3 linked regions of the Homo sapiens genome follow. The protein of the gene in region 3 purifies or fractionates together with the protein of the main gene of each other region. This does not show direct contact. Each region holds a gene or a part of one and is shown on either strand. Other genes may lie near its edges.

Region 1 (10,683 bases), on a different chromosome or scaffold from region 3:
TTCTGAGCCTTAAACCTTCATCCTAGAAAAAAAACACACACACAAAAGGTTTTTAAAAACAAGCATACTAACGAGACTACTGGAGCTAAAAATCTATAGGGACGGAAAGTAGATTAGTGGTTGCCTATGGCTGGGGACGGAAAAGGGGATTAACTGCTAACCACATAAGGAAACTTTCCGGGGGTGATAGACATTCTAAAACTGAACTATAGTGATGGTTACAAAGTTCTATGTATCAATGAATTGTACACTCACAGTGGGTGTCTCCATGGGATATAAATTATACCTCAATAACACTGATTTTTTAAAACTGGAGCTGAGAAATGTATTCCTAAAAAGCAAAAGTTAGATAGGCTATATTTACCTTTTTTTAAATCCCACTAAAAATATAATTAAAGAAGAGTACTTCCAAGGTGGCCCATGGTATTTAAAATCAGTTACATCCGTCCTAGCCCAATCAGCCAAAAACTACCCAGACCTGTAGTCTGCCATTTGGGTTTACTGACACACTGCAACTAAGGAACCGGAACAGCAGAGGCACAAAAGGGTGTTCTTGCCGTAAACAGAGATATGGTATCACAGAATTTGGGGGAAGGAAACAGTTTAGCGTGAAATTTAAGTAACAGTGTTTTTATATGCTCAAAGCAAAGCAGAGGGCTGTGTGTAAAGTGGTAGCACCAGGTCTCGACTGCAAAGCAGAGAAAGAATACTGTTTCTTCAGAAACTACAAATTTAGATGAGAAATGTACATAGGAAACCCTTATCTGAAGCTCTGCACCTGGACTGGAAAATGAGGGTGCTTCTCTGTGTCAAAATGACTTAGATCCTCCAGTCAAGAGTAGGCTGCTTCATTCTTGCTGATATGGCTTCACACAGCACTATGTCTTTAGAGCAGAAGGTTTCTCAGAAGAAAGCAGAAGTCACTCCAAGCAGGAGGTTGTTATGACACTGTGTGCAATGTGAACCTTGGGAAAAATACTAATACCTGTTAACTACACAGTTGTCTTTATCTCTGTCTGTTAACCAATCTGATAAATGGCAGGACAGTTTTTTACTTTTTTCAGTACAAGGCAATATTTTCTCCCATGATTCCTTTATTGTGCTTATAAATAAACACTAACTAAAAGAGTACACCTAATGGCACAGTTTTATTTGCATTACTGGATTTTCTGGAGTTGGGTTTTTTTGGTCTCATGCTAATTAGTCCTATATAAACAGTAATTCTCAGTTTCAGCTACACATCACAAACATCTACAGAACTTTTAATACTCCTGTGATTGTGACTCATTAGGTCTGGGGCAAGCCTGGTCAACTGTAACTTTTTAAAGCTCACTAGGTGATTCACATGCAGTGTGAATTAAGAACCACAGGGCTAGGGGAATTAAAAGGGATAGTGAACAGACAGGAGCAAGAAAGTGAACCTGGCAAAAAATTATGGTGGGCCTGTGTATAGGGTCTGAAATTCTGTAAGCCAGTGGGTCTTCAAGGGTTTTGTTTTTTTTTTTTTTTTGAGACGATGTTTTGCTCGTCACCCAGGCTGGAGTACAATGGCGTGATCTCGCTCACTGCAACCTCTGCCTCCTGGGTTCAAGTGATTCTCCTGCCTCAGCCTCCCAAGTAGCTGGGATTACAGGCACCCACCACCACACCCGGATAATTTTTGTATTTTTAATAGAGACGGGGTTTCACCACGTTGGCCAGGCTGGTCTGGAACTCCTGACCTCAGGTGATCCACACGCCTCAGCCTCCCAAAGTGCTGGGATTACCGGTGTGAGCCACCCGCCCAGCCCAGCTTTTTTGTTTTACTTTTCCAGCAGCAGAATCATCTCTCAAATAAAATCTCATACAGAACACTAGCATAAAAAGAGTAGAAACCAGGAATAAAGTCTCTCTCACCTACTTCCCTGGTTCACTCTTCCTATTTTCCAGCCCTGCCCCATCTATGTCATTCTCACTGTTTCCACTTCTCCCCTCCCTGCCAGAGGTAAACAGTGGCTTTTGAAAGAAATCTATTGAGCACCCTAAGGAGCACATCTTTATCAAAGAACAGAACTATGGAAGTCATGGCAGATGAAGTAAAAGTAACCAACAACATCCTTTAAAAGATCCATGGCGTGTAGGTGTGAAATAAAGATATTCTTTCCGCTACCCAGACAAGTGCTTGGAAGCAGACGGGTACCCCTCGAGGGGGTACTATGAAACATCAAGCATGAAGAGACACAAAAATTCACTTTAAAAAGCATTTCAGCAAAGGAGTTCACAGATCGACTTAAAACACAGTGCCTTTAATTTAGAGTGTAGTTCCTACATACACCTAACAAAAGGAATAATCAAATAACTCCCATCATTTAGCTTATTTTAGTTACATACATTTTTGTATCATCTACTTTGCTGCAAAGAGCTTCAAACAAAGCCTAGAGAGCAACGTATAGGTATTTAGGTCTTGAAACAAGTAATTACTTGTCAAAGACAAATTATTCATAAATTTCAGACATATTCAAATCAGTCCTCCTTCGCCATCCATTTAATTCAATCAAATACATGAATGACTACCACATGCATGTATGGTGAATGCAGAGATAAATGAAGCACTGCCCTTGCCACCAAGGCAATTACTGCCCACTAGAGGGAGAAAGGCCTCTAACAAGTAAGAGCAGTAGAAGGCGATCAGCATAGTGGAGGCACAAAGCAGACATGACAAATCGATTTTTTTCTTCTTTTGGAGAGGGTCCCAGCAAAGGCTATATGCTGTAGTAGCAAAACGTCAATGTGTGTATGTGCTGTGTCGGGAGGGGCAGGGTTCTGGGCCTTTCCAGTCACAGTGAAGAGCTTACACTAAAGCAAAGAGGGGTGATAAACAGATGCTTCTCCAGCATACTCCAGCCCAATGCTGCCCCACGCAAATACAATGTGAGCTTCAAATGTGAGCCCCGTATGTAAAGTTAAATTTTCCAACAGTACATTTAAAAAGTAAAAAGAAATGGGTAAAATTCATTTTAATAATATATTTGATTCAACCCAATATACCCAAACTACTATTTCAGTATGTAACCATTAAAAAAAAAAGATTTTACCTTTTTCTGTACTAACTCTTCAACATCAGTATTTTACACTCAACAGCACAGCTCAATTTGAACAAATCCCATTTCAGTGCTCAACAGCCCTAGGTGACTAATGGCTATGATGTGGGACAACACAATCCTAGGCAGTTCAGTATGACTAGGGCACAAAATGGGAAGGACATGAGAAACAAGAGCAGAAGCTGGCAATACTGCAGGCCAGATCACAAATAATTAGAATGTGTGCTAAAGTAAGGAACTTGCAGCAATGAGAAACCACGGGAAGACTGTTAAAAGAGGAGTAGGGTGGGGAGCAAAGGCACTGGGGCAAAGAAGAAAGAACTGACCAAGCAAAAATTTAAAAGCTAATTGCTAAAATGGCCTAATAACACTCACATGTCCTATACCTTCATTTCAATCAATTTATTTTCAACCAACAGAACTTACTCTCAGGTGCCGATTTTCTTCTGATAGCTTCATCATTTCTCCCTGAAGTCTTTTACACTCTTCCATTAGTTTCCTTGTTTCGGTATCATTAAGTGAAACACTGTGTGGTTTTGGCATAGGTCCATCTTGCTTAGATGCATTCAGTGGAACAGCTTTGCTAGGTTCCATATCATTCTGCATTACAAAGATATTGGGAATTTTTTAACTAACCAAATCTCCTTACAGGTTTTAAACAAATAACAATATAAATTCTACATCTTTGTTCATGAAAAACTCTTTAAAAGGCCTAAATCAGTACATGTCAGCAGTCAGATTAGTCTAAATAACCAGCCCACTCCCTCTATTCCCATAATCCCTGGCACGTACCTCTACCATAGCACTTTATTATGTATCTTAATAATTATTGTTCAAGTTCTTTCCTGTAATACTTCAAAGGCTGAGAGAGCAAGAGCCATCTCTCTTTGTATTTACCCCTAAAACCAGCACTTTGGTCAAGAGTAGTTATTCAATGAAAGTATGCTGAATGACGTCAACAAAATCCATTGAAGGTCATTTTCCGTGCTCTGGTTGTGCAATTCAAATAAGGTTCTGGGGGGTAGGGGGATATTATCGTAATCATTCCAATAAAATCGGAAACTACCTAAGAAAAAACATGCCCAAGAAAAGCTAACTTCTATTAATTTGTCATCTTTAGTAATGCTGTTTGCTTTAATTCACGTGATTCAACATCACAGGAGCACTTAGCATGCTTTGAAGACTATGAGCCCCAAAATCTTAATCCTCACCAACATTGAACCATTTGAAGCTAGTGAAGGCCTGGAGATAAATATCTATGACAGCACCTATGTATTCTTCAGCCCGTTGTCTAAAGTACCCCAACATCCTTCACTCCAACAGCATTTATGTCACCACACATCGTAGCAGTATTAGTGTAACAAGCTTTTTTCATTTTAATTAAATTCACTTACTTTAAAATAATTTTAGGTAAAATCTGCTTTATTCAGCTATAAACTGCTAAAAAAGACATTTACTAAATCAACTTTATGGCATTCCACAATACTCATTTTATAAGATTTATCAGAGGCTGCACACCTACCACACCATCCCAGCTGCCAATTTTATATTAAGTATAAACAGATTGTTCAAAGGGCAAAACTTGTTATTCTTATGAAGGGGATGTGATTTGATTAGTATGCCTAAATCCATGTAAAATCTATTTAAAAATGAAAATTTATAATGAGGTTCTAATGAACAACAGCATGTATGTGACCTGTCGGCAGACTCTTCCATTCTTCTTCAAGCTTCCCAGTTAAGCAACGTTTTAAAGCAGCCTACTTCAATTCTCTGAGTTTTTCTCTTGCTAGCTTTTTTGTTCTTCACCCCCATTTCTCCCACCCCAACCAATCTAATAATAGCCGCCCCTATTATTAAAAAACTGTTTCAGATATATTTTACCCTGCCAATACTTTTTCCTGTTCTTTTCCTTAATAGTAGTTAGAACTCATTTGTGATTTTCAGTGTGGTCAAATTCTATCCTAGCACAAATCCAACTTCTGATAATGAGGTTGGCACACTGACTTACTCTATAAAGGAGGTGGCAATGGCCACCAATATGGCAATAGAAGAACTTTCAGGTTTTGGTTAAAAATTGGGAAAAAGTATCATACTCATACCAGAAAACTGATAAAAACTTAAAGAGGATGAAGCAGGGCACCATGTCTGATGTCTGTAATCCCAACACTTTGGGAGGCCGAGATGGGTGGCCTGCTTGAGCCCAGGAGTTCAAGAACAGCCTGAGCAACAGAGGGAGACCCTGTCTCTACAAAAAACAATTTTAGAAATTAGCCAGGCATGGTGGTGTGCACCTGTAATCTCAGCTACTCATGAGACTGAGGTGGCTTGAGCCCAGGAAGCGGAGGTTGCAATGAGACGAGATCGTGCCACTGCACTCCAGCCCAGGTGAGAGTGAGACCCTATCTCCAAAAGGGGGAAAAAAAGATATACATGGGGTCAACACCAAAGAGAAAAAAAACTAAAAGAATCATCAAGCTCGACAACTGATTATTTTTAAATTCTTTACATTGCATAAAATTTTAAATTACGGAGGGAAGGGAAAAAGTCATTTCTCACAATCTTGTCAAATCAACAAAACTATTATTTATATTACTATTATTAAATGACATGTCATTAAATATTCTATTCTATGCCTTGCCAAAATTAAACATTTCACTTTTGTTAAGCATTTGATGGGCAGCTTTCCATTCTTTCAAATTTTAAATAACATGTCCATAGGAAGACATTCCATAAAAAGATAACTAGATTGGAATTAGATTTAGATTTTTCTAATTCTAATAGAATTAGACTTGGAATTAGATTAGAATTTATCTAAGCAAATAGAATTAGATTTTTTTGTTGTTGAATTTCTCTTAAAAATGTTATACTGCTTTTGTAACAAAAAGGAGAAGAAATGATAACCAATATGTGGAGCATAAACAGAATAGAATGCAAAGAATACAGTGAAGCCGAAACACATTTCAAAAGTGTGCCCAATAAGTTATATCACATACTACCTAGGCCCCTTACAAACCAGTGAACATACATAACAGGTGCAAGAAAATCTAATTTATTTACATATACATATGCTACATATGTATATGTTATGCTATATATGTATATGTAATGGGGGGAAGTGTGATGGGAGGGTGGGCTTTGAGTCATGCATGGAGTGACAATCTGAAGAGCCTGATGGAAAAAATTAAGCAGGTGTAACTTTAAGTATATGCTTCCATCCAGGACCTCTATTAGTGAGGTTTGGCTCCAATAAAACAGCTTGTTTCTTGAGAGTTGCTTCAAACTGGTCCAGAAAGAAAAGACTGGTTGTTCTGAGAACCATGAAACAAGCACACCAGAGAGATTCAACATGCTGTGACTCTTAGTAAATTGATGAATGGTAACCTTACATTTAACACTGCAATTCAGAATAAGCTGGAAGGTCAAGGTGTGTATCAACTAAAACAATAAACCAATCTTGTCCAGTTTCCACTATATTATTTAGCCTATCTGCAGTAATCCTCCATCTGAGTTGTCCAGTCATGTTCTGTATAATGATGTTTTGGTCAACAATGATTCATACATATGATAGTGTTCCCATACAATAATAATGGCACTGAAAAATTCCTATTACCTAGTGAGGTCTTATCACAATACATTATTCACGTTTGTGGTGATGCTGGTGTAAATATACATACTGTACTCCAGTCATATAAAAGTATTGCACATATGATTTATGTACAATACAGAATACTTGGTAATAAATGACTATGTTACAGGTTTATGTATTTACTGTTATGCTTTTTATCATTTATTTTAGAGTGTACTCCTTCTACTTACGAAAACAAAAAGGACACTCTAAGTCAGACTCCAGCAGGTCCTTCAGGAGGTATTCCAGAAGACACTGTTAACATAGGAGATGTCAGCTCCATGAGTGTTACTGTCCCTGAAGACATTACAGTGAGACAGGATGTGGAGGTGGAAGGCAGTGATACTGATGATCCCGCCCCTGTGCAGGCCTAGACTAATGTGTGTGCTATGTCTTAGTCTTAAGAAAAGAAGTTTTTTTAAAAATCTTATTTAAAAAATAGAAAAAGGCAGCGAATAAGGACATTAAAAAGATATTTTTATTTATCTATACACTGTGCTTGTGCTTTATGTCAAAAATTTTAATTTTACAGTTTATGAAGTTACGGACAGCTAAGATTAAAGAAAAAAATTTTAATAAATGTAGCCTAAGTGTACAGTGTTTATAAAGTCTACAGTGTACAGTAATGTCCTAGGCCTTCCCATTCACTCACCACTCATTCACTGACCCACCCAAAACAACTTCCAGTTCTGCAAGATCCATTCACAGTAAGTGCCCTATGCAAGTATACAATTTTATCTCTTATGCCATATTTTTGCTGCGCCTTTTCTGTGTATAGTCACGGGTGTCCAATCTTCTGGCTTCCCTGGGCCTCACTGGAAGAAAAATTGTCTTGGGCCACACATAAAATACACTAACACTAACACTAACTAATGAGCTATTAAAAAAAAAAAATCACACAAAAAAAAACTCATAGTGTTTTAAGAAAGTTTACGAATTTGAGGTGGGCCGGATTCAAAGCCATCATGGGCCACGTGTGGGCCGCAGGCTGCAGGTTGAATAAGCTCAGTGTAGATTGTTTCGATACACAAATACTTACCATTGTAGTACAGCCACAGGCTATACAAGTCTGTAGCCTAGGAGCAAAAGGCAATACCATATATAGGTTTTTGTAAGTACACTCTATGATGTTTATACAACACATCACCTAACAACACATTTCTCAATATATATCCCCATCCTTAACAGATGCATGACTGTACTTCTGTATTCTTTTTTAACCATCAGAATTTCAGTTCTAATATCCCAAGTATTTTTACTGGGGGTTAATTAGAAAAAGAGGGAACTAGGAATTGGAAATACAAGAAAAAGTTTGCAAAGAAGCCTTGGGAAGAACAAAGGAGATAAAAGACATAAACGTGGGCCTACATTCTTACAACTAACAGGAGTGATGGATAAAAACGCACATAAAGGGAGTTAAAAGGCTAAAGTCAAGAGTACTGTCATAAACCGAGAGAGGCAAAATTAAGGTCTTAACCTATGAATTAAGAGACAGGATTTAAGTAACAAAGTTACCTGAAGTTTTTTTTTCCCACTCTAAACAGCCAATTTACTGTTTCTTTAGGATCATGACTCCCAGAAGTAAATAATTCCCAATCACAAAAACAAAAAATTATTAAACATTTAGATAATTTTTTAAAGCCTTAGTATGCATATCATCTGCAAAACCAAATCAAAGTATAAACAATCTGTTAAAACTGTGGGGTTGCCACATGTGGTGGCTCACGCCTATAATCCCAGGACTTTGGGAGGCCAAGGCAGGTGGATCACCTGAGGTCGGAGTTTAATGAGACCAGCCTGGCCAACATGGTGAAACCCCATCTCTACCAAAAAAATACAAAAATTAGCCAGGCATGGTGGCACGTGCCTGTACTCCCAGCTACTCAGGAGGCTGAGGTGGGAGAATCCCTTGAACCGGGGAGGCAGAGGTTGCAGTGAGCTGAAATTGTGCCATGCACTCCAGCCTGGGTGACAGAGCGAGACTCCATCTCAAAAAAAAAAAAAAAAAAAAAAAAAAAAGAGTATATTCCCCAAATCTCAAAGAAAAAAATTACAGCAACTTCATAATGTTCACACTTATACTGTCCTGCTCACTATATAGATTTTAGTTAAGTTCAGAAGTTTTTTAGAACAGAATAGTTTGTATGCATGATTTTTAAGTGCTTTGTAGTTTTATTGTAATTTTAGGCATAGTTCAATTCTATCTACTTCATACAACATACTCACAATACCACTTATCTGCTAGGTATCTACATTAACTTAACCATTGACACTAGTAGACTCCTAAGTCTGTTAACTCCCTATAACAAACCTTCTGTTTCTCCTGTTTCAACACACTGAGTCCCCTGGGGTCATCCTTCGTGTGATAACTGGCAGGTGTTGCAACTGTGTTGTTGATGCTGCTCATTGAAGTGACAGTCGGAGCATTCCCTGGTGGAGTTATACCCTGAGATGGCATGGGAAACATATTCTCAGATTCTCACCGAACTCTGATTTCTTCTGCATGATATTGGGAATGACTGACACAGAAAGCATTAGGCTCTAAACATTAACACTTTATAAAAATGCATTAATGCATAAGAAACAATACTAATAATAGCTATGTTAAAGCAAAAGTAGTTTCTGAACTCGCTTTTTGTATTTCCCAAACAAAATTAGTTATAATCTACTTGCATTACATGCACCTATTAAATGTACATACTTTATTAAAATTTATGCCAGCCTTACATTGTTTTAAAATGAATACCATCTAATTCTTTGTGGCTTTTAATGTTTACTAATTAATAATTGTCAATAATCTGAAAAACAAGCACTTGTATGTCTTCTTATCTTTGATAACACTCAATCTGAACAATTTCATAAACCTCTCTTGTACTTAAAGCCTATCCCCCAATACACTCACTCTCTCACACACATCCCAGGCCAATAAACACTTAAAGACTCATATAACCATTAAGTCCATAGTTCTCTTCCTTTCTTTTCAAATTCCTTTAATAGATAAAATACTGTATTATACAAACAGGTGGGAAAGGGATTCCCTAATTATACTTACTGATACCCCATTTGTTCTGTCTCAACAGAAAATAATGTATATTCAACCATTTTATGATAAGACCCCTGAAATCCCTTTATAAGACCCCTGAAATCCCTGTTCTTTACAGCCCCTCAGTCTTCATTTAAAAAAAATCAGTATTTTTTTCTAGAAAATATGTCACCTTCAAGGTCAGGCGCGGTGGCTCACGCTTGTAATCCCAGCACTTTGGGAGGCCAAGGCGGGCGGATCACAAGGTCAGGAGATTGACACCACGGTGAAACCCTGTCTCTACTAAAAATACAAAAAATTAGCCAGGCGTGGTGGCGGGCACCTGTAGTCCCAGCTACTCGGAGAGGCTGAGGCAGGAGAACGGCGTGAACCCGGGAGGCGGCGCTTACAGTGAGCCGAGATCGCGCCACTGCACTCCAGCCTGGGTGACAGAGCGAGACACTGTCTCAAAAAAAAAAAAAAAAAAAAAAAAAAAAAAAAAAAAAGGGAAATATGTCACCTTCAAATGTCAGATGGAGGACATAAATGAAATGCAATACATTTAAGAAATTTAGAAAATGTCAGAGTTAAGGCCTCAAAAATTTTTTAGAAGTGAACACAAAGAACTGAATAGGTCATAAAACTTCAAAAATAATAAAACCACATTTGATCCTTAAAAAATAACCACTACCACTAATTGGACATTACGTATATACAGAGCTGACAATCCAAACAGAGCTAATAATTCAAAGAACCCTATTTTGTACAACAGCGCTTTCGTATCATGTGCCTCCAGCTGTCAACAATACAGGGAACAGGCTCAATGGCTTTCAGTACTAGCACTGACAACAACTCAACTGAAGACACTAGGGGCCATTAACAAAATGAAATGTATTGGCACACACCTGCTGATCCCGAGGACTAGGGTAATGACACATCTTAGTGTGCTTAAGGAT
Region 2 (10,683 bases), on a different chromosome or scaffold from region 3:
AAAAGTGCAGCCCGATGGCCATTGAGATGTCATAAATCCTGAAGAGCTTCTGTGGCCTGGCAAAGGTATAGGTTGCTGTTAAACAGTGGGTGAGAGTGAAAGAGGGAACAATTTGCCCTTTATCATGGTGGTTGATGGACGTGTGGGAAGCTTTCAAGTTCTCTTGTTTTACAAAGTGCCCTGTCAGCCTCCCTACCCCTTTTACCCTATCTACCTCTTCAATCAAAGGCTGCTTTTAGATGAGGATTTCTCAGCCTCAACACTGTTGATATTTGGGGCAAATCCTTGGTGGTGGTGGAGGTTGCCCTGTGTACTGTAGGGTGTTTTATTAATAGCAGCATCCCTGGCTTCTGCCCTCTTGATACTGGTAGTACTTCCCAGTTGTGACAACTAAAAATGTCTCCAGATATTGCCACATGTGTCCTGGAGGGCAATATCAACCCCCATTGAGAGTGATCCCATTCCGGTGTTGCCTGTGGGGAGAAGGAAGGAGCCCCATCCTCTAGGCTGTCCACTGTGAGCGCTTTACCTTTCATGATCCTCACTTGTGACCAGTTGAAGAAAGGAGACTGTATCTGAAATGCTAATTTGGACTTCCCTTCAACCTAGTCGAAAACATTTTAATTTTTATAAAAACACCAAAACTGTGAAAGCATGCAGCATGTGAAACTATCCTAGCCATTAATAGCTGGAGTTGGGAAACAGAAGTACCCTGAAATGTTGTGTTAACAGTATCTATGTTGGTCTGCGCGAGTGCTGTTGATTTGTGTCAAAACTACCTGAGATTTTATTTCTGCTGAATCATTTACCACTATCATTACCCTGTTTCTTTAAGTGGATAGTGGTCATTTTTTCCCTCTTCCCAGTGTACATCCTGTCACAGGAAGGTCAGTTTGGAAGCTGTGAAAGCAGTATTCTGGCCTCAGCTCTGTGATAGGTTGACTTGGTAGCCTGGGGCCTTGCTTCACAGGGCCTACTCTTCTCATCTGGAAAATGATGGGTAGAGCTAGATTCCAGGCCAATGATCGTCAGTTACTCTTTCCCTGACAAGCTGCGTGCTTCCATGCCCTCCCTCCACTGACTGGCTCTCATCCCCTGTAAATCTCAAGAGGGGATCATAGCTGAATCTTGGCAGGGGAAATAAGGGGAGTATGTAACTTCCCAAGATTGAAACATTGCAGACACTGAGTTTGTTTCACCTTCATCCCAGCTTCCAAATGCTAAGTTGGTAAAGTAATTCGCCCTCTGTCTAATGCTCTCCCAAGCCTCCTAACCCCACTAAGGCAATCCTAGGGATGTTCACATCTTTGTGGTGACAGTAATTTGTGGCTAATAATTCCTGAGCTTGCACAATTACAGTATGCTGATTTTTCCGTGGCAGGAATTTGATAGTGCAATATACACAGCCCTTTTTCTCTTTCTTTGAAGTATTAGTCTCAGCCGAACTTCATTATTTGCCCTTATCCATAATTTCTAGGGCCCTGTTGCTTTAGATTATTAAGATATCAGATAAAGTAATCCATTTTTAAAATAAATGTGACATTTTACAGTGTGGATGAAATGCTACCACGTTTGGTGTTTGCTGAGAACTACTTTACTTTGCATAAAAAAGTCCATTATTACATGGTCGGTGACACTTAGGCTTTCATTTGTTTTTGAACAGCATGATGTAGAAATAAATAAAATTATATCCACAACTGCATCAAAGACAGAAACACCAATAGTGTCTAAGTCTCTGAGTTCTTCTTTGGATGACACCGAAGTTAAGAAGGTTATGGAAGAATGTAAGAGGCTGCAAGGTGAAGTTCAGAGGCTACGGGAGGAGAACAAGCAGTTCAAGGTAATAGTTTATTTTCTGGTAATCTACAGAAAACAAGGGCGTTTTCACTAGCTTCTTGGGTGGGGAAGTTGATGAGCCAGTGAATATATAGATTTCTTTTTGCTTTTGGTATTTGGCTATTTTTTTCTCCCCAGGGAGAAATTTCCATGGCTTTCATGAGAGTCTCAAAAGGGTCCTTGGATCTGCCTAAATTAAGAACCACTGTCCCTTGATCAGAAATTTCTCAACTGTTGAAGCTCTTGTCCCCTTAAAAAAAAAAACAAAAACAAAAAACTTGGCCGGGTGCGGTGGCTCACGCCTGTAATCCCAGCACTTTGGGAGGCCAAGGCGGGCCGATCACAAGGTCAAGCGTTCAAGACCAGCCTGGCCAACAAAGTGAAACCCCGTCTCTAATAAAAAATACAAAAAATTAGTTGGGTGTGGTGGCAGGTGCCTGTAATTCCAGCCACTCGGGAGGCTGAGGCAGGAGAATCGCTTGAACCCAGGAGGCGGAGGTTGCAGTGAGCTGAGATCGTGCCACTGCCCTCCAGCCTGGGTGACAGAGCTAGACTTCGTCTCAAAAACAAAATAAACAAAACCCCAAACAACTCAAACTCTCCATTATTGTAAATTGAAAATAAATGTTGAGACCAAAATAGTTTTTATTTTGAATATGCATTTTTAAACCACTTGGGTGAGAATCTTTTTTCAGAGAGTGAATACTGACCTATACTCTGTTTTAATGCAAGTATAGTTCTGATTTTAGAAGACTCTAAATAGGTCTGGGCAGTTGTGGCTCATCAAACTATTGATGTGGTGATGAGCTTGGAGGTGGGGTGCCTCACAGTGGGTAGGAGGTGGAGATTATGGAAGGAAAATCTGAGCTTCTAGCTTCTGGATGAGGCAGTTGGCATTGGCAATGGAAGGTTGTATTGTACTGAGTGATGAAGTGGGGAGGCAGGGGGTGCTTCTTTTGGCTTGTGGTGGTGTGGAAGTTGCTCCCATCCAATATGAAACAGCTCTGAATCTGTGCTGGTCACAGCATCTCTTAGGCCTCTGTTTGCTAAACACCTCTAAGGCCCCTTCCAGCTTTAAAAGTATGAGTTTTCTTCTCTTTTACTCTGACAGTGAGGTAGATATAGGAGAACTGACAGCATTTGGGAAATGGCATCATCTTCTTCCTTTGCAGTGATTTTGATTTGCCTCAGTCAGTAATTTCTTTAGTGTGTAGTAAATTGTGAAGCTGACACTACTTTTTGGCTAAAAATCTAAGCTATGCCTGAAGCTTCTCGAGTGTATTTCTCTTCTGAAACAGAGTTCTGTGCTATTTAAAGTGGTAAATAGGTAGAAATAGCTTCTATATAACCTAATAAAATAAATGGTTTAGTTTGCCGGGTTTTTTTTTAAGCCAGTCGGACACCACCAGTTGTTTATCACTGTGCAGTGATACGGGCCATGCCCCATGAGCAGAATATCCTTAAAATATGATCAGACCAATCTCAACATTAGAAGATTCTTTATCCTGCCAAACACTGCCTTCTTGTTTTGTGTTGGTTTATTCTGTCATCTGGCCAACAAATTTACTGAGGGTCTAATATGTGCCCGGCACTGTGGATTCAAACACGAACAGCCCCTGCCCTTGAGGAGCTCTCTGTTGTTGGGATAGCAGGGAGAGACATAGACAGAAGTGATTACAAGCCAGTGTGATCAATGTCCCACAGAGATAGCAACAAATTGCAGGGAGAGTCAGCTCCATGGGACTCATCTGCCTGTGGTCCCCAGGACCTACTAGGTACTCGGGCGGATGGGAGCGAATGGAAGGAAACGAAGAAAAGAAAGTACAGCTGGTGTGTGGGGTTTAAGGATGAGGAGATGAGGTAATTAGCAAGAGATCTATCAGCAAAGATGAGTCTGTGCCAGAATAGAATGGCTTGATGCATGTCCCTCTTCAGGGATGTGGGCTTGGCTTTGAGAGCATGGAAATGGCATCATAGATCTACATAGTAACTTGCAGATTCTTAGGAAAGTGCAAGGCAGTTGTGGCAGTGGAGGTGAAGGAAGAAAAAATTTTTCATTTCTTACATTTCCATGTAGTTTGGGGACAAGGGGAGGGTGGGGAATATGGTCAAATATCTTTATATGTATGAAAAAGAATGTTGCTTCTTCAATGAGAAATCTATGCATTAAGTAGAAAATATTTGAGATGAGTGTATGAAGGCCAGTCACATTTTAATATTCCAAATATCATTTGATCCAGCAGTCTGGATGTAACTCATTAAGTACCAGCTATCTACAGAGCTCTGCATTTGAAAGCTTCCAGATGTCCCACTTTTAGGTTTTTTTTTTTTTTTTTTTTTAATATGGAGTCTCACTCTGTCACCCCAGGCTAATTTTTGTAATTTTAGTAGAGACGAGGTTTTACCATGTTGACCAAGGGGTAGTCTTGAACTCCTGAGCTCAGGTGATCCACCCGCCTCAGCCTCCCAAAGTACAGGGATTACAAGCATGAGCCACCGTGCCCAGTTGACTTTGTAGATTCTTTTATTTATATATTTATGTCTTGGGAAATGCCTGTGATTTTAAAAATCGATGATTTGATCAAGGAAGGCTATTCATTAGAGGCAGGAAGGACAGAGAGGTTGGGGTTGAAGAGAAGCATCCGGAAGACATGGCCATAGAGGTGGGTGGGGCCGAGGGTGCAAAGGGCCCAGTTGACCCTTTTAAGTGCTTTTTTCTGTAAATCACGGGAAACCAAGGAGCACCCTGTTTAGATGTCTGTTGTAACTAGCAGCAGCAAGTGGAATGGATGAAAGAAAAGAGGGGACTGTTTTCTCAGTGGCTTCAGGCTAGCCCTTTCCCCTCTGTAGCCTGCAGTTTCTCCGTTTGCAAAATGCGGTTGGACCATATCATGTCATCCAACACTGGGCATAAACAGCCCATCCCGTTAAGCTGTACAGTTGACTCCCCTTTCTGGTGCCTTGGCTTGTCTTTGAAATGTGCGTTTGCTCCCGTAGGAAGAAGATGGACTGCGGATGAGGAAGACAGTGCAGAGCAACAGCCCCATTTCAGCATTAGCCCCAACTGGGAAGGAAGAAGGCCTTAGCACCCGGCTCTTGGCTCTGGTGGTTTTGTTCTTTATCGTTGGTGTAATTATTGGGAAGATTGCCTTGTAGAGGTAGCATGCACAGGATGGTAAATTGGATTGGTGGATCCACCATATCATGGGATTTAAATTTATCATAACCATGTGTAAAAAGAAATTAATGTATGATGACATCTCACAGGTCTTGCCTTTAAATTACCCCTCCCTGCACACACATACACAGATACACACACACAAATATAATGTAACGATCTTTTAGAAAGTTAAAAATGTATAGTAACTGATTGAGGGGGAAAAGAATGATCTTTATTAATGACAAGGGAAACCATGAGTAATGCCACAATGGCATATTGTAAATGTCATTTTAAACATTGGTAGGCCTTGGTACATGATGCTGGATTACCTCTCTTAAAATGACACCCTTCCTCGCCTGTTGGTGCTGGCCCTTGGGGAGCTGGAGCCCAGCATGCTGGGGAGTGCGGTCAGCTCCACACAGTAGTCCCCACGTGGCCCACTCCCGGCCCAGGCTGCTTTCCGTGTCTTCAGTTCTGTCCAAGCCATCAGCTCCTTGGGACTGATGAACAGAGTCAGAAGCCCAAAGGAATTGCACTGTGGCAGCATCAGACGTACTCGTCATAAGTGAGAGGCGTGTGTTGACTGATTGACCCAGCGCTTTGGAAATAAATGGCAGTGCTTTGTTCACTTAAAGGGACCAAGCTAAATTTGTATTGGTTCATGTAGTGAAGTCAAACTGTTATTCAGAGATGTTTAATGCATATTTAACTTATTTAATGTATTTCATCTCATGTTTTCTTATTGTCACAAGAGTACAGTTAATGCTGCGTGCTGCTGAACTCTGTTGGGTGAACTGGTATTGCTGCTGGAGGGCTGTGGGCTCCTCTGTCTCTGGAGAGTCTGGTCATGTGGAGGTGGGGTTTATTGGGATGCTGGAGAAGAGCTGCCAGGAAGTGTTTTTTCTGGGTCAGTAAATAACAACTGTCATAGGGAGGGAAATTCTCAGTAGTGACAGTCAACTCTAGGTTACCTTTTTTAATGAAGAGTAGTCAGTCTTCTAGATTGTTCTTATACCACCTCTCAACCATTACTCACACTTCCAGCGCCCAGGTCCAAGTCTGAGCCTGACCTCCCCTTGGGGACCTAGCCTGGAGTCAGGACAAATGGATCGGGCTGCAGAGGGTTAGAAGCGAGGGCACCAGCAGTTGTGGGTGGGGAGCAAGGGAAGAGAGAAACTCTTCAGCGAATCCTTCTAGTACTAGTTGAGAGTTTGACTGTGAATTAATTTTATGCCATAAAAGACCAACCCAGTTCTGTTTGACTATGTAGCATCTTGAAAAGAAAAATTATAATAAAGCCCCAAAATTAAGAATTCTTTTGTCATTTTGTCACATTTGCTCTATGGGGGGAATTATTATTTTATCATTTTTATTATTTTGCCATTGGAAGGTTAACTTTAAAATGAGCCCTATCACTGAGAAATACGTGTTTCATGATTTAACTCTGTGTGTGTGTGTGTGTGTGTGTGTGTGTGTGTGTGTATTTTTTTTTTGGTTGTCTTCAGCTGACAGTATGAAAAATGAAACTGCTGAAAAAGCTGAGCACCTGGTCACCCTTGGCCTTCCATTGCTTTGGCCTTCAGTAAAAAGCAGCCTCCCTTCTAGGTCAGGGAACCATGCCATTGAGACTAGTAACGGGCGTTCTGGGCACAGTCCCACTGTGCACAGGTTTGAGAGGACAAGTTCATCAGAAGGAAGGCAGTCCTTAGAAGTCACATACGTTGAGCCACGTTGCTCCTAAGCCTGGCTCTGTCAAGCTGGGTCAGGGGCCTTGAAACTGGAGAAGTGGAAGTCTATGGTTGGTCTGAGTAAGTAACTTCCTGTCTTCATGAAAAAAGTTGACTTTGAATCCCAGGTACTCACAGAAATGGTGAACAGACTTAGTTGTTACCCAGGCACCCATGGATTGTGTTGAGTGTGCAGACAGGGAGGCCACCCCAATAGGAATTCGTCTCCAGGATTTTTCCCATGTGTCCCCCAGTACTTATAAAAGGGAGTGAAAAGACCGAGCTGTAAGGCATGTGCCTTCTGCCACCTGACTTTCCGTGAGGGGACTAAAATTTACTAATTGTAGTTGCTGCAGCCAGTTAAGTCCTGTAGCTTCCAGGCCCTCATGTCTTTGATAGGAGAGTGCTTAGGTGGTCCCCAACAGTGCCTAGGGGTACAGTACAGTCCCATTACACTAGAGCAGGGCTCTATTTATTTTTAAAGGATATGGCCGTGTGTTTTGATAAAACTTTATTCACAAAAACAGCCGGGTCATGGGATTTGGCTTGTGAGTCTGTAACAGTTCTTAAAAAGAATATCTGAGAAACTACTCTGTTTTAGACCTTTGAAGGTGATTTAGAGTTTTGTGTACATCTAGGAGAAGGTGTTCAGCTTCTCAGAGGATGTGGACATTTTGGTTGCAGCTAAAAATCAGTCTCTGAAGTCTCTCTCCCTTCTAGAGGTTAGGACTTGGTGAACATGTTTGTGGGCCTTTTGACTGAGTGGCAGAAGGAAACTGCTCAGGAAGAGAAACAGGTGACTGATGGGAAGGTTGATTATTTTCTCAGTCATCCTGGCAGCCAAAAATGTGCCAGGAAAAGAAAGAATGTGGAGCACGCGTGGCTCCTGGAGGACTTGGAGATGCATGCACATTTAGGGTGTTTTCCCTAGAATTACATAATGAAAAAAAGAATAAGGCAAAGAGGAGGTGAATATGGGGCCTGTCACAACGGCCTGCCCTGCCCCAAGAGGGTTAAGAGTCAGATAATCGGGACGAAACTGGCATGGAAAGAGCGAGCCTAGGGAGGATGCCGCTGGGCAGTGTGCATGGGGGAGCTGCTGCCAGGCTGCCCTCCAGTCTGCTCCTGTGGTTACTGGCTCCACAGCACCTCAGAGAGGGCGGCCCTGGCTTCAGAAATGCCAGCCATAGTGCTCACAAATGCAGAAGAGATGGAAGCGGTGACAGAATCCTGAAAGTTTTTATTGATTGAAGTTTTAAATTGGTAACTTAAGCTTCCTTGGCACGATACAAAATACCTCTTAAAGACAGCAGGCTTTTTTATTTGTAGGTGTGAGGAACTGGCTTTAACTTTTTTCTCCTCCTAGTTTGCATGTTTTCCTTCTCTCGTCTTCTGAACTGCTGGCACCAGCAGTAATACATACTGATAAAATCAAAATTGATTTTTACCAGTGGCCAGTTTATGGCTAGAGAGACGACTTATACCTCCATAACACAGAAGGGGGAAAAATGAAGAACCTCCAGTGATCCGTGAAAACCTAAACGCTTTCAAACAAATCCCAGGAACAGAATTGCTATCGAAAGATATCATTGCCCAGTTTGCAGGCTATGTTGAGTCAGATAGAACTGAATGTAGTGAGAGCTCAGAGCTACAGAGCCTTTCAGATGAATTTGAAAACAGACTCTGTGTGTGTGTGCATGTGTGCATGTGTGCATGTGTGGCATATGTGCCGTATGTCAGTAGCTTGACAGTTTTCAAATCGTGCCTATATTTTTTTGCATACACAAATTTTTGTGTTTGCAAACTCAGAATCCATGCCAAAATACAATGTTATATGTCATTTTCAGCTCCTTCTCTAAAGGAATGGCCCATTTCTCATTGTAGTTTGAGAAATACATGTATGAAGAGATAGGGGTCTTGGGCTTCCCAGTGTCACTTTGAACACCTGAATAACATTTAACTCCTGAGACCTTCTCGGTGTAGAGGCCACTGCTTCCCCCTGCTGGAGATGGCATTTCATTGAAGGGCCTCTCGTGGCTTTCCCTGCCCCCGGCTGTCTGGCCTGAAGAAGGAGAAAGAACCAAACTGAACTATGAAAAGTTACCACTCTGAGGAGACCTCTCTTAATTAACACTTGGGGCCATGTTTGCTGTTGTTGAGAAGGAGTGTTCTCAAAGATGAGCTGGAATGGAATTGTATTTAGAAAGGCCCCTGCAAAGTATATAGATGGATGACTCTAGTTCATGACATACAAATCCCATAAGGCCAACGACCACTCTTCTGGAACACCAAGAGCAGCTCTGAGATCATGCTGGCCCTACGCGAATTGAGTTTCTGTGGCCTAATTGGATTTGGAGAACGCCTTCCCTGGCCCCTTTTCCTCAGACAGATCTGCTCTGATAGGAACCTTTTCAAGAAAGTTACTGTTGTTTCAATGCCACTCCTTACCTGTATAGAACATTTCCAATACATTCGCTCATTGAACTTAATCCTTGCAACTGTGACTGGGGGGTAGATGGCTCTGTTTGCATACGAAGAAATAAAGGCTCCAGGAGGTTAAATCGGGCAACTTTTTAGAACTAAATCAGTCTCTGTAAGGCCTACATTGCTAAGATACCATTTCAGCTCTGAAAATCTGCTTCAGGGAAGTGAGTGGATGAGGCCTTCCTGCCTCAGCTACTCTGCCCGTCTGTACATCTTTTGTGTCTGCCTCCGTACCTTATTCAGTTATTTTCACACTAAAGTAAGTAGAATTAAGACTGTAGTTCAGATGCTTTTTCTTTTTCTGTTGGAAACTGAACACACTACAGACAGTGAAAAAAGGTACATATTCCATTTTCTCATTGCCTGAAGATCTCTGCTGATGCTCCTGGAGAATGACTTTGGGGGCTTTAGAAAGAATATTGCCAGTCCGTCTCGGCAAGGAGATGATGGGAGCGCTTTATATGGAGGCTTTACATGACTTGTAAATTAAATGTGAATGAGGGCAGTTGATTAAAATTGGTATTACAGAAGGGCCCTGCTGAGGTTTGAAAACAGCTGAGCTGCTGATGTCTCAGGCCTTTCCCTGAATTAGCACTGCGGTTCTCCAGGATATCAGCAAAGAGGGCAAGTAATAGAAGCCCCTGATAAGGAGCGTCAGCCGACAGGCAAGCTTGGGAGGCTGTGGGAATGGGTCTGCCCCCAGCTTCACAGACCTCTTCCTCCAGCCTCTGAATCCCATTAGCCACAGCCTAGAACATTAGCTGAGCTGCACAAGCTCACCCACCCCTGTGCCAGGGGGCCCTGACCTCCCTCCATGCCATGTTTTTGGCTGTATCTACGGCACTTAACAATAGGGGCTTTTTATTTTCATTACAGAGATATTTTGAAAAATTTAAAAGACATGAACTCACATAAACAGTTATGGATGATAGTTAAAAGAGAAACGGGTGGAGGTGGATGAGAGGTTGTCTTCATGAATATAATTACTTGAGATTTTTTTTTCTTAATGGAATTAGTTTATTAGAAAATGTCTGTGTTAAATCCGTAGAAAAGGAAGAAAAGTGTAGCAACAAAAATGTAGCCATTATCTAACTTGCCATAAATATTTGCAGTTATGATACCTTGGAATGTTGCCACGATATGGATTGCTTTGATTAAAAGATGTCAGTTGAATAAAACAGTACTGTGGGAGAATCGCTTTCTGCTGCTAGATAAATGCTGATGTTTATTTTTAAACCAGGAAACATTGATCCTGTAACAATGCCCGATTACAATTGCTTTATTACACCCCAGGGCTGATGGAGATGTAATCACTTGGCTAATGGATGTGGGTGCAGGACAGATGCTCGCTTGCTGGCCTGCTTTCCTGCTTGCATTCTGATGAGCTGCAGGAGTGCGCCTGGCCTTCTGCAGGTGGAGCTGCTGTCAGAGCTTCGTTTCACTGATACCCAAAGCCATGTCTGACTGAAATAAAAC
Region 3 (10,796 bases):
CGTAGGATCAGTACTTTACTGACTCAAATTACTAGGTTTGCCACATGGAAGCCTGCCAGCTACACCCCTCAGAGCAGAGGCTAACACCTGAGAGGAGAATAAACTGGTTCCTCCAGCCTGGGAGGCCCAACCCTGTGGCCTCGGCTCTGTCTCTGCAGATATTCCTGCCCCAGCCTGAGAGGTGCCAAGACCCTCTAGGCTGTTCACTCTGCTCCTGCCTAACCTGGGGACCTGGCCCCCACCCCCTACCCTCATTCTCTCAGTGGGAGAGAGGGGCAGCCTGTTGGGGTGCAGAGGGAGGGGCACAGGGAGGTAGACAGGAAGGGAGGGGCAGTGTGGCTGGCAGGAGTCAGAATCAACCCTTCCCAACAAAGGCAGCTCCACCAGGCTGGCCTCTCTCCAGCTTCCCAGGAGCCCTGGCGTCCCAGCCAGAGGGATCTGTCGAAACACAGTGCCAAGTCTTACCCCGGCACTCCTGTCTTCATGCTCTTTGGAGTTCCTTTTAGCCCTCTGCATTCTTCCGCTCCAGCCAGGTTTCTTTACTTTTGGGCACTTCCTACCCACCTTCCACCCCTACCCATAGCAGTCCTCCCACACTTACACATGTGCCTCTTCCTTTCCATCCTCCTAGCCTTTGTTCAAGCCACTACCCCCACCTGGAAGCCGGCCCCTGGCCACCTTTCTTTTTCTTTTTTTTTTTTTTTTTTTTTTGAGACGGAGTCTCGCTCTGTAGCCCAGGCTGGAGTGCAACGGCACGATCTCGGCTCACTGCAAGCTCTGACTCCTGGGTTCATGCCATTCTCTCGCCTCAGCCTCTCAAGAAGCTGGGACTACAGGCGCCCACCATCACGCCTGGCTAATTTTGTTTTTGTATTTTTAGTAGAGACGGGGTTTCACCGTGTTAGCCAGGATGGTCTCGATCTCCTGACCTCGTGATCTGCCCGCCTCGGCGTCCCAAAGTGCTGGGATTACAGGCACGAACCACCGCACCGAGCCCCTGGCCACCTTTCTATACAAACTGTGCCAGCCTTTAGGGCCCATCTCCCAGAGAAACCCAGCCTTCACTGTCTGTCTCAAGCCACTCACTGGCCTCTCTGCTCCGTGGGGAGCTCTGTACTGTAAATTGTCCCTCCTACTCAGAGCTTCTGAATCCTCCCCACCCCTGCCCCCACCTCCCTGTTGCTGGTTAGACTGGGGCCACCATAAATGATGCCTTTCTGTGTAACTGAAATCTCCCCTAGAGATTGAGAACTGGTAATAACCCATCTGGATTCACCTTCTGAAGATCTATCTCATCCTCTCTGGGCCCCGATAACAATTTCTCTTGTACCTGGATTCTCCTGGCAGTGTAAGAGTCCTTTCACTGCCTCCTTTTAGCTCTTGTCCGACACAAGCCATGCCACAAATCTGGCACAGCCATGACCTGCTGCTCAGGCTGTGCACTGCACAACTCCAGGGGTATTATTCACTAGACCACACGTGATGACCTAAAGTCAGGTACCATGGCAGCCCTGGGGCCCAAAGCTCTGCCTTTTCTCTCCGTGGGTGATCTACTGGCCAGATTTTAAAGGGAACATCTCACAGGTCATGGTGCAGACCCCTCATTCACAGGCCGGGTGCCACAGCCTCCACTCCTGGCCTTCAGCAGCCCTTTGTTCCTGTGTCACCCCCCGCCGCCCCACCCCGCCAGAGTGAAGGCCTGATCATTCCTGCCCATCAGTCTGCCCATCCGAGGCAGGTGGTACTGAACAGCCACCCCGCTCTCTATGTTCTCCTTGGGCCTCAGTTTCCCCAGCTGTGAAGAAAGAGATGGGTTCCTGATCTCCAAGGGCTCCCTCTGTTCTGAAGCTCACCAATCTATTCTTCACAGATGTTGCCAATGAGGAATATGTGATTCTCATACACACATTACTGTGTGTTGTTTTTGATTCAGTAGGCTTATGAGCATCAAGAAGAGAAGGGAGACCAGGCGCAGTGCCTCACACCTGTAATCCCATCACTTTGGGAGGCTGAGGCAGGCAGATCATTTGAGGTCAGGAGTTCAAAACCAGCCTGGCCAACATGATGAAACCTTCGTCTCTACTAAAAATACAAAAATTAGCTGGATGTGGTGGTATGTATCTGTAGTCCCAGTTACTTGGGAGGCTGAGGCAGGAGAATCGCCTCAGCCCAGGAGGCGGAGGTTGCAGTGAGCCGAGATCAAGCCATGCCCTCCAGCCTGGGAGACAGACCGAGACTCCATCTCAAAAAAAAAAAAAAAAAAAAAGGAGAGAAGGGACATTTACAAAATGCAGAGGAGCCTGGGAGAGCTGAGCTGAGAAGGGAGAGGTAACCAGACTCCTTGGGATGACTGCTGAGTGTGGGGGGCAGGAGCCCAGGCACTGGATCTACAGACACGGGGAATCTGTGTTGCCTCGAGGGAAAGGGCCAAGCGTGAAATTGCAGCAGAAAAAAACCAAAATGTTAGAACAGCACAAGGCATTGATGCTCAGAGCAGGGCAGTTTTTCCACCTGTCACTGGAACAAATTCCCACAGACTCTCAGCCCAGGGACCAAAGGACCCACAGGCTAAGGCAGAGGGACTGAGACTGGCACCCCCATTTGGTAAGGGGGTGACCTATCAGGGCAGTGACAGAGAGAGTCCTTCGAGTCCAATAGACCTGGCTGTGAGTCCAGGCTCTGCCCAGACCCTCTAAGCCACCTTGAGGCTGCTATTTCTCTGAGTATCTGTTTCTAGATGTTTTAAAAGTGGGAGAGTCGCATTTCCTCCCTCCCAGGATCACGGTACAGTAAAGAGCTTAGCACTCTGCCTAATACATAGAACAAGCAGCAAATGTTCACTGCCGTTGCGATGACAGTGCCCTGGCAGGTGACCTGTGCTCAAGGCGTCCCAGTGCACACACACACTCACACACACACAGGGTAGGGCAGCAGATGGGACACACGCCCTGCCACAGGCCATTTTAAGGAGTCGGGGTGGGTGAGGACCCAGGCACGGTGGAGGAAAGAGGGAGGCAAGAAGCCTTTTTCAGCTTCCTTGGTGTCATCTCACAGTGCCTCCCTCAGGAGGGGAAAAGGGAGGGGAGTGAGAAGGCTGTTTAGCTGTGTTCCATACTGGCTGTGCCTCACACAACCGGCCCCACCCCGACAGGACTCCTTGGGGACAGAACGGGAGTGCATTCTCAGGCACCTAAATCTTACAGGCTCAGTGCCTGCACAGGGAGACGGGTCCGCAGCCCAGGGTCCCGGGCAGCTTTCGGGCTTGGGGGTGGATTGACACACAGCCCGATGGTATTCACACCCATTCCTTCACTGTCGCGCCCGGTCCTGGGGGACGGCATGGCACCAGCCAACGTCACGGGTTGGGTGTGAGTTCATGGTAGATTCTCACACGCCAGCCTCACAAGAGGCACTGCCGAGACCAGGCTTGCTGCCGCCTACTGTATGGCCGGCCCTGTGGGCACAGCTGTCCTCCACCCGCCTCCCAAGGCACCATCGGGCCCAGAATGTGCCCGATGAGTCACGGGCCTGGGTCTCCCCAGCATGGGCGCAGCAGGGGGGCTGAGTCCGCCTGAGCCCCGGTGCCCAGCTCAGGGTCTGGCACAGAGCAGATGCTAGTGAATGAACGTCGGGCTGGATGAATGAACGAATGACTAATGCCCGCTCCCTCAAACCACAGGCTACACCGTCTGAGCCTGGGGGAGGGCAGAGCCCACGGGACCCCAGAAGAGGCCTCCGCAGCTGAGGCTTTGCGTCCCAGGGTCGATGGGGGAGGGGGCGGGGCGGCCAGCAGCCGGCGCGGCACGGGGCTCCCCTCCTTCCCGAGAAGGAATCTGGGTCTCTGGACTGAGCTGGTGACGGGGGCTGGGGCGGGGGGTTGTGGCGTCCTGGATGGAGAGAGCTGCAGGAGCAGGGGGCGCGTCCCGGTTTGCGTTGGGGTGTGGGACGAAGCGGCGGCCGCGGGACATCCCCTTCGGTGGCGAAGCCCGGGTCTGCCCGGGGCCTCCGCGGGGTGCAGAGGGCTCCCAACGGCGGGACTGGCCCGGGGCGCCGCAGACCTGGCCCTTTCCGGCGGGGCCGTGGAGAAGGGGACGCGGTGTCCCCCGAGGTGACCGGGGGCGCAGGAAGGACGGGGGGCGCGCGGAGCCCCCTCTCCACGCGCGGGAGGTCCAGCCCCGCTACCGCCCCCTACGCCCTCCCGGGACCTCCGCCCACCTGCGCGAGGGGTTCACCTGGGCCGGCGGCCCCTCCTCTAGACGCGCGAGTCCCTCCCCCGGGCCCCGGCCCTGCCCTCCCCGCGCCCGCCCTCACCTGCACGGCCCGCCTTGGCCATGTCCCGGGCGGCGGGCTCCGGCGGCGCTACGCGCGCTCCTCGCGCTTCCCGGGCCCGGCCCCGACCGCCTCCGGCCCCGAACGGACTCCGAGCGCCGCGCCCGCGCCCCCGCCCCGCTCGCCTCGGCTGCCGCCACCGCAGCCGCCGCCGCCTCGCCGCTCCCTCCCGCTCCCTTAAAGGCGCCGAGCGGCGGCCGCGCCCCCCCCCCACCCCACCCCCCGCGCCGCCGGGGAGGGACTGACGAAGGAAGGCGCCCAACGCCGCCCCCGCGGGCCCGCACCCCCGCCCCGGGCCGTGGCCGCCGCGCTCCAGCCCGCTCCGCTCCGGCCCGCGCGGCCACCGCAGCGCGCGAGGGGCGGCAGCCCAGGGGCTCAGAGACGCGGAGACAGCCCGAGACACTGCGGGCCAGAGACGGGGCCCTGGACTGGGAGAGGGGCGCACAGACTATTAGACAGCGCTGGAGAGAGACGCTCCTAGGGCCAGAACGCCGAGGTGGAGGGAGAGAGAGAGAAATTCAGAGGAGACCAGAGACCCAGAGCCCGGCTCCGGCTCCGGGAGAGACGGACAGAGGGAGCGGAGAGAGGAAGGAGGACAGGGATCCAAGGGAGGCCCCCACGAAGTCAAGAGGAAAGTCGCTCTGGGATCAGAGACAAGAGAGGGACCCCCTCCATCAGCCCCCGCTCCAGGGGTTCTGGATCATTTATGGCGTCTGACCTAACCTCAAAAGAGAAAGGATTCCCGTGATTTTAACCCTCAAGGGATAAGTAAAACACTTGCACATCCACCTGGGGTTCTAGGCTGGAGCAGGCTTTGTGGACCCCAGCGGCCTGGTGGTGAGCAGTACCCGCCTTCCACTTCCTAAATCGGGATGCAGAGATTCTAGTGGACAGGCCTTGTGGTCCGGGGAGATATGGGTTATGACTTCTGTTTAGGGGCAGCAGGGATCCACAGTCCAGCCCCAAAAGAGAGCAGGAGATGGCCAATTGTATTTGGCGGTGCCTGAGAGGTAACAACCCTCCACTGAGAGGGTGCCCTGCCTCCCCCAGGAATTGGTAAGGCTGAAGCCCAGTTACCATCTGTAGAGCCAGGCACCCAACCCACCCTGTCCCACTCCACTTAACAGGGAAAAGGTCAACTGGAGAATTCCATCCATGGTCCAGGCTCCAGGGTCCTGCAAGCTCCTCTATGGAAACAGGGCACACATGGGGTTAGATGGGGGCTCTCAGTCCAGTGCCTTCTCTGGGGCTTTGACTCCATTCACAAGATTCCTGCTAAGCAGTCCTCCAGCTCCTGGTTGGTTACCTCCAAGGACAGGAAGCTCAGTATCTTAAGTGAGAGTTCTTCCTTTTATTAATTTTTTTTTTTTTTTTTTGGCTAGTGCTGGCCTTAAGAATGTTCTTACTCGTTTGAGCTGAAATCTACAACCCGCATGTCCCATCCATGAGTTCTGCTCTGCCTTCCGACACCTCACCCAACAAAACCAGGGCTTCCCAAGGCCTTCTACCCAAACTCCCTAGTATGGATTCACCCAGGGAGAACAACCATCCACGTTTGCCAGAGCTCACCTCCCAGGAAACCCATGAGTCCCAAGAGCTCTGGATCCCAGAGCCAGATGACAGCACCAACTCCAACAGATGTAGAATTTCAGAAGCTCTGGGCTCCTGAATCCAACGCTGTTCACCAGCACCTGCCATTGGTCACCAGCTGGGAGAGCAGGAATGGACCCTGCAGCCTTTCCCCACTATGAGAATGGGACTGGGGATGAGAATAACAAGGACTATTGATTGAACAGGCGGTATTTACCCTCATGTACTCTCTCAGCTACATTGCGTTATCCTCAGCATACACATAACGAAGTGGGGGCTAAGAAAGTTCGGTGCTTGTGGTCATGGAGGATCAATTTCAGGCCCCTGTGCTTTGTCTACTGGGCCTCACTGGCCTCACCCTTCCCTGAGGTGTTTCAGAGGCCTGATAGCCTGGACAATGTCCAGGCTTGGCCACCTGGTCTGTAGGTGTGAGTGGTCACGCAGGAGACAGAACGCTGGCTGCAGAAGAAGCAATGCGCCTGCCACAGAGGGGACACGCCTGGGCCTGAGCTCCTCCCCAGCCCTGGCTCACAGTAGCAGCAGTGACCAGAGGGCATCAAGGGCCCTCCTGCTTCTGGGCACAGCTTCACGTTGTGTTTGTGTGTGTGCCTGGGTATGTGTGCATGGGGTGTATGTGTGTGTGCTTGTGTGTGCTTAGGGATGCATGCATGGGTGTGTGTAGGCACACTCGTACACACAAACACAGGCAAACACCTGCTGACAGATGCTCCCTGGGTGGGCACCCAGACCCCTTCCCCTCCCACCACTTAGTCCTCACAAACCCTAAACTAGTCACCCAGAAGGGCCTGGGTGGAGCGGTTAAGGGGAGGTGCCAAGTTGATGGGAGTTTCAGAACTCATCTCTCCAGACCACTCCACACCCCATTTCTCAGATGGGAAGACAGTAAGCCAGATCTGTCCCCTGAAAACCACGACTCAGAGGCCCAGATCCATGGTTCCCCTCTTTAAACCTTCACCCCAGCCTCTGTCCGCCCCTAAGGCAGCCCCTGAAGGCACTGACTGTTACCAGCTGCCAAGGAAGTTCCAGCCCAGCCTTCTGACAGAGCAAACACATCAAAACTCAAGGCCATTAGATTAACTGGTGGGAGTTAACTTCCTGCGTCAGAAGAATTGTCCTTAATTGAAGAAAGGGATAACTAGCAATTTAGCCACGCTGACCTCTGCTGCCCGGAGGAAAGAGAGGCAGGAGCCAGCCAGGGCCTACGGGGCCTCCCAGTTACCAGAGTTACTGTGCCAGTAACTCTCCCAGTTACCAGAGTTACTGTGCCAGGAGACCAGATCAAATCCCTTCTCTGAGACCTGGCACCCAGGCCCTTTCCTCTGACCACAGCTTGTTCTGCTCCTGCCTTCACAGTGGCCAGCTGCTCCCAGGCCCAGGCAAGCATCTAGCCCAGAGAACCAGTAAAAATGAGCAGGGGCCCATCCTGTCAATGGCTGTGGAGGACGTGTGCAGAGATGTGGACAGGTTGGAGAGCTCCAGGTGGGTAAGGAGTGGGAGCTGGCTGCAAGACAACTCCTCGACATGGCAGACCCCAGGCCTGGCTATCCAGCCTGGACAGCTGGTGTGAGCACTTGGAAAGCTAAGTGACAGTTCCTAGGAGCCAACATGGCCCCCCTGAAAGCTAGTCATGCCAGGCAAAGCTCATTTCCTATTTGGACACGGTTATAACGACTAGTGGAGTTGGGCATCGCCTTGCCTTCTGGGCCTGGGTTGGGGCACGGCTGCTGCCCAGCTCTCTGACAGTAACTTTGTAAACAACAAAGGGAGTCAGGAGCAAGAAGATAGCCTGGTCAAGTGGCTTACCCCGGTCCACTCCCTGATGGGCTCCAGTGGAGGGAGCCTCCACCTCCCTCCAGGACTTGAGCCATGTCAAGCATCTCAGCGCAAGTGCTCACAACAGAGAATAAGCTGTGTAAGAAGGACGCTGCTCATGCAGACTGGACAGATGCACGGCTGTTCACCATGGCCTTGACAAGCTGGGACCACGGGCCAAACCCAATCACCATGGCCTTGACAAACTGGAACCATGGGCCAAAGCCAAGAGGATGACATGAACATGGACAAGCAAGTGGGGCCATCCTCCCAGGCCAAACACAAACATCCAGCTAGGAGTGTTCACTCCCACTTGTAAATTTCCACAGCCCCTTTTGTCCTTGAGTCTCACTCCCTGGCCAATATCACATCACTATGTCTCACCTGGACCACTGGAAGCACCCCTTCCTGATGTATTTCCCAGCCTATGTACCCTTCTTCACCCCCTCCTTTCTGGTTCCTATGCTTTAAAGTGTCATGGTTGCTGTCCACTGCCATGGGAACCACCCCTAATCATAAAAGTAGTCCCAGACACAGTTGCTCTTCCTTGGAGTCTTACAGAATTGTTCTGAGAGTAGCTGGTTTCTTGTCACCGTCTCCTCCTTGCCCCAGGATGCCCCCAATTCCACCCAGCATCCAGAACACTGAGTGGAACATGCCCTTCCATCCAGAACTACTCTTCTCCTCGTCCTCCTCCTCCTCTTCCTTCTCCTCCTCTTCCTCCTCCTCTTCCTCCTCCTCCTCTTCCTCCTCCTCATTCTCTTCCTTCTCCTTCTCCTCTTCCTCCTCCTTCTCCTCTTCCTCGTAGTCCTCCTCCTCCTCCTCCTCCCCTCCTCCTCTTCCTCCTCCTCTCATTATCCTCCTTCTCATTCTCTCTCTTCTCCTCCTCTTCCTCCTCCTCCTTCTCCTCCTCCTTCTCATTGTCCTCCTTCTCCTCCTCTTCCTCCTCCTTTCTCATTCTCCTCCTTCTCCTCCTCTTCCTCCTCCTTGTCTTCTTCCTCTTCTTCTTCCTCCTCCTCCCCTCCTTTTCCTCCTCCTCTTTCTTCTCCTCTTCCTCCTCCTCCGCCCCTCCTCTTCCTCCTTCTCATCCTCCTTCTCTCCTCTTCCTCCTTTTCCTCCTCCTCCCCTCTTCCTCCTCTTCCTCCTCCCCTCTTCTTCCTCCTTCTCTTCATTCTCCCCTCCTCCTCCTCTTCCTCCTCCTTCTCCCTTCCTCTTCCTCCTTCTCCTCTTCATTCTCCCCTCCTCCTCCTCTTCCTCCTCCTTCTCCCTTCCTCTTCCTCCTTCTCCTTCTCCCCCCTCCTTCCCTCCTCTTCCTCCTTCTCCTCCTCCTCCCCCCTTCCTCCTCTTCCTCCTCCCCTCCCCCTCCTCTTCCTCCTCCCCTCCCCCTCCTCTTCCTCCTCCTCTCCCTTCCTCTTCCCCTTCCTCCTTCTCCTCTTCCTTCTCCCCTCCTCCTCCTCTTCCTCCTCCTTCTCCCTTCTTCTGCCTCTTCCTCCTTCTCTTCTTTCTCCCCTCCTCCTCCTCTTCCTTCTCCTCCTCCTCCCCCTCTTCCTCCTCCTCCTCTTCCTCCTCCTTCTCTTTGTTCTCCCCTCCTCCTCTTCCTCCTCCTTCTCCCTTCCTCTTCCTCCTTCTCCTCTTCTTTCTCCCCTCCTCCTCTTCCTCCTCCTCCTCCTCCTCTTCCTCCTTCTCCCCTCCTCCTCCCCTCCTCCTCTTCCTCATCCTCCTCCCCTCTTCCTCCTTCTCCTCATCCTCCTTCCCTCCTCTTCCTCCTTCTCCCTCCCTCCTTCCCTCCTCTTCCTCCTTCCCTCTTCCTCCTCTTCCTCTTCCTCCTCCCCTCCCCCTCCTCTTCCTCCTCTCCCTTCCTCTTCCCCTTCCTCCTCCTCCTCTTCCTCCTCCTCCCTTCTGCCTCTTCCTCCTTCTCCTCTTCTTTCTCCCCTCCTCCTCTTCCTCCTTCTCCTACCCTCCTCCTCCTCTTCCTCTTCCTCCTCCCCTTCTCTTCCCCTTCCTCCTCCTCTTCCCATCCTCTTCCTCTTCCTCCACCTTTTCCTTTTCCCTGCTGGTGGCTGTGGCTTATCTAGTGTGTGCTCTTTTTTTTTTTTTTTTTTTTGAGATGGAGTCCCACTCTGTCACCCAGGCTGGAGTGCAGGGGCACAATCGCAGCTCACTGCAACCTCCACATCTGGGGTTCAAGCGATTCTTCTGCCCCAGCCTCTTGAGTAGCTGGGACTAGACACCCAGCTAATGTTTGTATTTTTAGTAGAGACAGGGTTTCACCATGTTGGGCCAGGTTGGTCTTGAACTCCTGACCTCAAGTGATCTGCCTGCCTCGGCCTCCCAAAATGCTGGGATTACAGGTGTGAGCCACCGTGCCCAGCCAATCTAGTGTGTGCTTCTACCTTCGACCCCAAGAAGGGCTAGGACCTGCCTGTCTTAATCCCCTCTGGTGAGTCCATTCTCAGCAGTTACGTTGACAGCTGTGGCTTCACCCTCAAGGCAGATGCTGTAAAGAAGGCACTGGCCACCACCGTCTTATGTGTGATTTCCTGCAGGGGCAGGAAGATTCCCTTAAGGTTAACACGTGACCTTTTAGGTGAGCCCCAGACCCCCATGTGTAAGGACCCCCCTACCCAAGACAGACCCCCCACGGAGCAGACCAAGCAAAATGTTCTGTCTTTACATGAGACTGCATTCCCCCTTTATTCTCACCACAGTGGGCGGCAAAATCTAGAAAACATACATGTGCGTGTTTCCGCTGTGTTTTCAAAACATGTCTGGAGACATCTGCAGAATCTGTTGAACTGGACCTCATCAGATTATTTATTTATTTATTTTTTATTTTTTAATTTGAGACAGAGTCTCGCTCTGTCACCCAGGCTGGAGTACAGTGGCCCCATCTCAGCTCACTGCAACCTCCGCCTCTCAGGTTCAAGCAATTCTCCGGCCTCAGCCTCCTGAGTAGCTGAGATTACAGGCACAAGCCACCATACCCAGCTAATTTTTGTATTTTTAGTAGAGATGGGGTTTCACCATGTTGGCCAGGCTGGTCT

What was found.
Region 1: the proteins of PITPNM3 (region 3) and VAPA purify together in Homo sapiens (co-immunoprecipitation; 3 studies listed by BioGRID and IntAct, with this or other methods). This does not show direct contact.
Region 2: the proteins of PITPNM3 (region 3) and VAPB purify together in Homo sapiens (co-immunoprecipitation; 3 studies listed by BioGRID and IntAct, with this or other methods). This does not show direct contact.

What each region holds. Positions count from the first base shown.
Region 1 is NC_000018.10:9,943,392-9,954,074, reverse strand, and holds part of VAPA (vesicle-associated membrane protein-associated protein A), read right to left. Parts: intron 9,152-10,683; coding exon of another isoform or gene 9,017-9,151; intron 3,681-9,016; coding exon 3,507-3,680; intron 23-3,506; coding exon 1-22. UniProt on the Homo sapiens protein: Endoplasmic reticulum (ER)-anchored protein that mediates the formation of contact sites between the ER and endosomes via interaction with FFAT motif-containing proteins such as STARD3 or WDR44.
Region 2 is NC_000020.11:58,439,244-58,449,926, forward strand, and holds part of VAPB (vesicle-associated membrane protein-associated protein B/C), read left to right. Parts: exon of another isoform or gene 1-65; intron 66-1,663; coding exon 1,664-1,840; exon of another isoform or gene 1,841-1,841; intron 1,842-4,833; coding exon 4,834-4,992; 3' UTR 4,993-10,683. UniProt on the Homo sapiens protein: Endoplasmic reticulum (ER)-anchored protein that mediates the formation of contact sites between the ER and endosomes via interaction with FFAT motif-containing proteins such as STARD3 or WDR44.
Region 3 is NC_000017.11:6,552,074-6,562,869, forward strand, and holds the start of PITPNM3 (membrane-associated phosphatidylinositol transfer protein 3), read right to left. Parts: upstream 4,483-10,796; 5' UTR 4,334-4,482; coding exon 4,312-4,333; intron 1-4,311. UniProt on the Homo sapiens protein: Catalyzes the transfer of phosphatidylinositol and phosphatidylcholine between membranes (in vitro). Binds calcium ions.